Linked DNA regions of Homo sapiens. The gene in region 1 interacts genetically with each later gene. Each region holds a gene or a part of one and is shown on either strand. Other genes may lie near its edges. The genes, in order: TOP1 and ROR1.

Evidence for each region.
Region 2: changes in TOP1 (region 1) and ROR1 together harm fitness more than expected from each alone (negative genetic interaction), as found in Homo sapiens cells (one large-scale study listed by BioGRID).

Annotation. Positions count from the first base shown.
Region 1 is NC_000020.11:41,098,132-41,101,959, forward strand, and holds part of TOP1 (DNA topoisomerase 1), read left to right. Parts: exon of another isoform or gene 1-83; coding exon 84-206; exon of another isoform or gene 207-693; intron 694-1,924; coding exon 1,925-2,112; intron 2,113-2,526; exon of another isoform or gene 2,527-2,661; intron 2,662-3,040; exon of another isoform or gene 3,041-3,077; coding exon 3,078-3,222; intron 3,223-3,828. UniProt on the Homo sapiens protein: Releases the supercoiling and torsional tension of DNA introduced during the DNA replication and transcription by transiently cleaving and rejoining one strand of the DNA duplex.
Region 2 is NC_000001.11:64,042,938-64,046,765, reverse strand, and holds part of ROR1 (inactive tyrosine-protein kinase transmembrane receptor ROR1 isoform 1 precursor), read right to left. Parts: intron 1-3,828. UniProt on the Homo sapiens protein: Has very low kinase activity in vitro and is unlikely to function as a tyrosine kinase in vivo. Receptor for ligand WNT5A which activate downstream NFkB signaling pathway and may result in the inhibition of WNT3A-mediated signaling.

The DNA.
Region 1 (3,828 bases):
TGGGTGTATTTGCAAAGAAACCCAAGGACTTATTAGTGTATTTTCGTTGTTTTTCTTTCATCTCCCCATTTTCTTTTGACTAGGAAATGACTAATGAAGAGAAGAATATTATCACCAACCTAAGCAAATGTGATTTTACCCAGATGAGCCAGTATTTCAAAGCCCAGACGGAAGCTCGGAAACAGATGAGCAAGGAAGAGAAACTGGTACTACAGAATTTATTAAACCTCTGGAGAATTCTGGAATTGTGATTGGTTCATTTAACTTTCTTCTTGGTTCTTATGACACAACATTAACATCAGTAATTTCACATCATTCTATGCTAAAGACTTAGAGTTCTCAAAGTCTAAATTTTCTTAAAGGTTTTAGTTAGACTGAAAATTGTGAACAAGTACTTTGCTCAGTAGCTCTGTACAGGAATCTTGGTGCTTCAGTGACCTAAAAACCAGTCAGTAACTCCAGCCAATAATATAGTAATTAAGGATGGGCAGACCTGTCCCACAGTGGCTACTGGATATTAAGGATTTAAGACAGATGAAATCATATTGGCCATGTACCTCCCTGCTCTTTGATCTATTTTACTCTGGAATCTTGTGATGCTCATCCATCTCCATCTTCCAGCCTTGGCCATCCTCATTACTGAAGGATCTTTCTGGTATCCAGCTGGGATGTCATTTTTCTTCTACAGGCTGCCTGTTTTTGTAAAAAAAAAAAAAAAAAATTTATTGGAACCAGCTGCCTCTACTTGTCTACATATTATCTACGGCTGTGTTTATGCAACAATGACAGAGATGAGTAGTTGCAAAAGAGAGTAGTTGCAAAAGAGACTGTGTGGCACTCAAGCCTAAAATATTTTCTATCTAGAAAAAGTTGTCAGCCCCTGAACTAAAGGAATCCAGGCTAGAATTTCATTTTTACCAATCGGAAGTCCAGAAGTTAAGGATTTTAAGGAATTCTTTGCACTTCAAATTCCTGTAGTTTCAGTATTTTAAAGGACTTGCGTGTTTACGTAATTCAGACCATTGTATTGATATAACTCATTGTTTCATGGTACTTATTTGGTCACTAGTTTAAAAATTAATGCATTACTATAAGAATGTTAATTGCATCAGACTTTGTGTCTCAGGTAAATCTTATCCTCAATATTCCAAGTTAGTGAAATTTAGTATATTATTTACTTCAGGGGCATTTTGAAACTTAAAAGATCACTTTGGAGCTTTGTTCTTAGAATATTGATCCAAAGATAGATTTTATAAACATCCCCTTGTCAGAGCCTCTGCCAAGGACACCTGCTGCCAGCAAGGTCTGAATCTGTTCCCACCCACAAGGCAGCACAACTTAGTTAAACTGAATCAATAAGTATATAAAACGCAGAGTCAATAGAGGGTAAGGAGGCTCAAAATCTCCCCCACCATCCCTCACCTTTTTGGAGCAAGGATCATAGTATAGAGTGTATATACCTGTATACCTACAAAAAAATTAGTGACAGATCTGTCTGAGCTTAAAAACCCACGTTTTTAAGCTGTTTAACTGCTGTTTAATTAAATGGCTTGAGCTATTCTTTTATGAGGCTCTATCAGAGACTCTTCTCCATTTCCTGTTTTGATAGTACTCAGTAAAACAGTATGAATTTTTAAAGTACATTTAAAAACACCCAAATAACATTTACAAACATATATCCTTTAAGACACAAGAATCAGTTTTGAATCTAGTTGAAATCAATCCTTATAGGCAGATCTTTTTGGGGAATTTTATGATATTTAAGTTTGAGAAAACCACTAGAGGTTTTCCTTTATTTGAATTTATTTTTTAGTGATTTTTCAGACTTTCCTCTACCTTGACTTAGTCTCCCACAAGAGATAAAATGCATTAGTAGAGAACAGCAATCTGAATCTATTTTGAGTACTTTCTTGCTGTCTTCCAGAAAATCAAAGAGGAGAATGAAAAATTACTGAAAGAATATGGATTCTGTATTATGGATAACCACAAAGAGAGGATTGCTAACTTCAAGATAGAGCCTCCTGGACTTTTCCGTGGCCGCGGCAACCACCCCAAGATGGGCATGCTGAAGAGACGAATCATGCCCGAGGATATAATCATCAACTGTAGCAAGTGAGCTCGCACTTCATCCTATGGGCCAAAAAGGGGGTGGAGGGCGTCCTTTATTGTACTTGGGAATATTTCCCAGGTTACACAGGACTGTTTGGGAAGGGAGATACTTAAGAGCAGGACAGTATTTCATGCGTAGGTCTCCAGATGTTTTTGAGGTACAGTTGTCTCCCCTCATCCACAGGGGATATGTTCCAAGACCCCCAGTGGATGCCTGCAACTTCGACCCAATTGCTGTCACTTGGAACACATTTCTGTTGATGTCTTCCACCCCCAAATTTAATGTCTTTTCCATGTTTATTAAGTACTTATCACATAGAGTGGCTATAACTTTTGCAGTCTGAGGCACAACAGCAAAACTAGCACGACTTTCTTTTTCCTTCTTCACAATTTCACAGATGGAAGGTTAATTCTTACCTTAGATCTTAGCAACTTCACCATACAGTTTTTTTTATTAAGTCGATAATTTCCACCTTTTCATTTAAAGCACTCTGTGCAGCTTCTGTATGGCATATCCAAATTGCCAACATCACCACTTTCACACTTTGGGGCCTTTATTAAGTAAAAGAAGGATTACTTGAACACAAGCAATGTAAAACCATTAAAGTCAACCTGATAAATAAGGCAGCTACTAGGTTACCCATGGGCAAGTGACATATACAGCATGGTATGTTGTATATATGGTTCACGCATCCCAGGTGGGACTACAAGAGATTTCATCATGCTCCTCAGAATGATGTGCAATTTAAAACTTACAAAATGTTTATTTCTGGAATTTTGTATTGAATATTTTCGGATGACAGTTGGCTGAGGGTAAGTAAAACCATGCATAAGGTGGGACTACTGTATTGACTGTTAAGAAGGAAACTTGGAAAATTATGCTCAGCAGATAGGTCCACTTGGGGTCATGAAAGGTGAAATTATTCCTCACATCTTATTTCACTATCCTCGTGCTCTGTTATTTCCAGAGATGCCAAGGTTCCTTCTCCTCCTCCAGGACATAAGTGGAAAGAAGTCCGGCATGATAACAAGGTTACTTGGCTGGTTTCCTGGACAGAGAACATCCAAGGTTCCATTAAATACATCATGCTTAACCCTAGTTCACGAATCAAGGTAAGGGGATAGTTGAGAGCTGCACTGGTTCATGGTGCTGATAACCTTTTTTTGTTGAAATGTAACGTTCTCGTCCTCTAGAATCACTTTGACAAATTAAAAATCCTCCCCATTGAAAGAAGGCAAGTACTTTCATAGTTAGCATTATGGTGATCTTCCTACAGTGCCTCCATTTTTTTGGTCACATTGTAATCTTATTTATTAATTCACAAATATTTACTGAAATCCCAAATGTGCCCCACACAGTATACATTTGATGCTAGGAATTATGTTGGTAAACAAGATAGACGTAGGCCCTGCCTTCATATTGCTTAACGTCCAGTGGTCAGAATGTGTTGAAGTATGGTGATTGTATATTGGCCTCTGCAGATGTCTTCTACTTCCTCACCTCTCTTGGTTATGAGAAGGGAATGTAGTTTCTGTATATCCTGAAACAAGTTGTAAAATCTAATGTCTTACATACTTCTGGCTTCCTGCAGTCTCATCTGGGTAGGTTCACCAGGGCCAAATGAAATGTGTGTGAAAGCACATCATAAAACTGTGTTACATACCTATGCACTGTTATTTATTGATAGTGTTATTGCAAGGAGATAACTGCCTTGGGGG
Region 2 (3,828 bases), on another chromosome or scaffold:
TTGGTACCATGAGACCCATTGAGGGCTGAGATTTGGTACCATGAGACCCATGGAGAGTTGGAATATCTCCCTAAACCAAGGTGGGCCGTGGACACACATATACCCACAGGGTTGTGCTCTTCCCCTAACTTCAGCCAAGACTGTCTGGTTAATGGGCCTAAGCTTTAGCCATGGGTGCTGGCTGATGTTCTTTCTGGTTTCCCTCCAGAGGCCAGGCACCTCACCTGATCTGCTCTATAAAATATCTATCTAAAAACAACATGAGGGTTGCAGGGCACCTTGAAATCAGTGTAGTAGATGACCCAAGCAGTGTGTTTCCAGAGAGAACAAAAGAAATGTAAATAGATCTTTGTGTTTACTGAACAAAGGAGCCTTGCCACAAACAGGGAATTTGGTTTTAACTTTTCACTGACGAAGAAGAAGTTTCAAATTTGTTGGCCATCTGTAGCTGCTTACTTAGTAAGCAGAACGAGAACACCTGGGCATCCCAGCAAAGGTGTCCAGTCCAGAGGGAATTCACACTAGACTCAAGTAGCAGTTCTGCCACTCTCTAGCGATGTGTGTCAGACCATCACTTCACCTCCCTGGGCTTTGGATTCATAATCTGGGCCTTTGGGGTTGGGTCTGCTTCTTCTGAGACAGTTTGTGTTTCTATATGGGCAGCTGCAGAACAACTGGATGACAGGCAGCAGGTGTCCAGTGAGCTTGAATGCCAGACAAAGCAATCTGGCTTTTATGTGTAAACCTGGCTGTTTGTACCTTTTTCAATGGTTTGATTCAGTAGCTCTGATGATATGTGCTTGAGCTATGGAAGATTTCTCATCTTTTTTTCCCTTCTTCCCTAGACTGCAAATGTCAAGATGGCAGATGGTAAGTGGGAGGTAGGGTATAGTCTGGCTTAAGGGAAAAGTTCCAGTCCCACTGAATCCACCTCTAGCTCTGTGTCCCTGAACAAATGATGCCTTCCAGTGCTAATACTAGTAATAATGATGATGATGACACTGACAACAATAATGATTTCATAATGATGGTGGTAATACCTAACACCTAAATGGTATTTATCATCATGACAGTTATTGTTATGAACATTTTACACATGGAAAACAGAGAGGGTAAGGCACAGAGAGGGTAAGAAAGTTGTCCAAGATCACACAGACAGTAAGTAGAAGTGAGATTTTAAACAAATTATTTTGGCTCCAGAGTCCATGCTGTAGGATAGAAGTTCTCAAATTCTTTGGTCTCAGGACTCCTAGATAATCCTTAAAATATTGATGCCACTGAGGGGAGAAAGTTTTAAAATATTTGTTTATTAACCTATTTAAAAATAAAAACAATCCCATTGCTTAACATAAATATTTTAATAAAATATTTAGTAAAATAATATTTTCCACACGCGTATACCAAAAATAGTGAGAAAAGTGGCATTTTTTTTTTATTATTGAATATCTATTATTGTCTTAAAACCAGACAGCTGAAGCCTCCTGTTTCAGCATTCAATCTGTTGAGGTATGTTGTTTTAGTTGAAGAAAATCTGGCTTCGCACAGTTGGAAAAGGGAAGGGTTTTTAATAGTCTTTCAGATAATTTAGGATATTCTTCTTTGATACTACACCAAAATTCGATAGGTGGTAGTTTCTTAAACGTTGGTTGCAATGTGAAATCTGAAATCATATCAATAAACTTTTCATAATCTATTAAATTATAATGGATTGATTTATCTTGTACTTTGAATGGTTATTCTACCTACATACGATTTTGTAACATCATGCATTGCCTGTTTAGAGAACACTGGTTTACTGAGTTACGTTCGTTTTCAAAATGTGGACACCCTTACTTATCTAATATAGAAAATTCAAATGCATTAATATCACCACCAGTGCCATCAGTTATGATTGGGAAGAAGTTGTCAAGCTCGTGATGGTGGCTAAAAGTTTCGCAAAATTCTAACTTTTTCTGGAAAGTTCAAATTTTATTATTGGCAATTAATACTACTGTTTCCTTCAAGCGGCAGGTTCATTTTCCTCATTTTAAAGAATATTCAAGAATAACTAACCATAATTTTTCTGTCGGTCATTCTTTAAAGTAAAAGTGGCTAGTTCAGCTCAGAACTCAAATGCTTTTCTTTGAGACAGTCATAGTACTTGGCAGGAGTACTTTACGTATACTGCCCATCTGCCATATGAAATATTAAAAATCTATGTATTCAAGGGTCAAGATTTAATACAATTAATAATTTTTACTGCTCCATGGAAGATATTCTTAAGTGCAATTGGCTTTTTTTTTCTTTTCAACTACAAGTATATGGCAGTGGAATGTACAGTGACCACTAGTTTGGTACCGTTGGTGCCATTGTCTGAATTTGTTTGAGCAGTTTCACCCACCATTGCTTTTGCACAATTAGGATGGGTAAACCGCAGTTCAGAGGACTTAACAGCCTATCCCAGAGTTCACAGCTAATAAAAGGCAAAGCCAGGATTTGGACACCAAGCCCAGCGCTGTTTCCATCACACTCCATAGCTGCCCTTTCCCAGCCCTCAGGGTCCTAGACTGGTGTAAGGCTTTCAGAACAAAATGGGTTAGCTCAGGCCCTGAACGGTATGAGTCAGAGAGCAGAGTGGCTTGGATGGCATGTTTTCTATTTCCGAACAAGCAGTTTGGGGCTTTGGGGCAATCCCAAGCGATTGTGTCAGATCTGGGCAAAAGTTTAGGACTCTGAATTAAAAAGGATTTGTTACCTTTACAATGTAGGAAAATGAAATGCCAGTATCCTTTTAGTGCCACCATCTTCTCCCATTAACAATGGAAAGTGATGATCATAGCTAACATTTTTCTGAGCATTTACAAAATGCCAGGCACTATTCTGAGCATCTTACACACTTTAATTTAAACTTGACAACAATCCTATGAGGTAGACTCTAAAACTGACCACATTTTAGAGATAAGGAAACTGAGACACAGAGAAGTTAAGGAATTTCCCAAAGTCACACAGCCAGAAAGCGGCAGAGCCAGGACCCAAACCCACGCCTTTGAACAGCAGAGACCATATTATGTTCTGATGCAATCAGATTCCCAATCAATCCAACCTGTAGTCTTTCATTGTCCTTTGCACCACTCATAACCTGAACTAAAAAATATTCTTGCCTTTTTATGAGTCCATCAAGCATGTGACAATACCCACTGGTACTGAAAACAACTAAATCACCACTAGTTGCTTATGACGTAACTGGAAGTCATCATTGAGAATGAGCTTTTTAAATACAGTGCAGGCATGGTCTGTACTGAGGCTTAATGAACCAGAAAAAGCAAACTGCAAGAAAAAAGTTATTTTATGACCTCTCTGGGAATTGAGACTCTATTTCCTCCTTTTTACATTTTTTGTATTCCCCTCAGCACTTCATGTGTTATTGTGAACTTCATAGGCATTTAATAAACGCTGGTTGATGAAGTAAATGGAAGGCTCAAGTGAATTTTAGGCAAATTAGCTTTGGAGACACCCCATTTATTATTTACCCACTTGACAAGATGTCACATCCACAAATCCACAAATCCTTCCCAACATTTATTACTTAATTTTCAAAGTGCCCCCATCTCTCCTCAGGGAGGAAGGTGGGGCCAAGTGTTATATTCCCATTTTGACAGGTGAGAGAAACTGAGATATAAAGAGTTGAGCAGTCCATTGCCATGGCAACCCAGCCAGTCAGCCGAGGAGCCAGTCACAATTAGGTTTAGGGCCTGGGTCTTGGTATCAAAAGAGGCACATGCCAAAATCCTAGCCTCCCACATGACTGATGCTTTTCAGAAGAGGGAGGAGGTTCCCAACATGAAATGA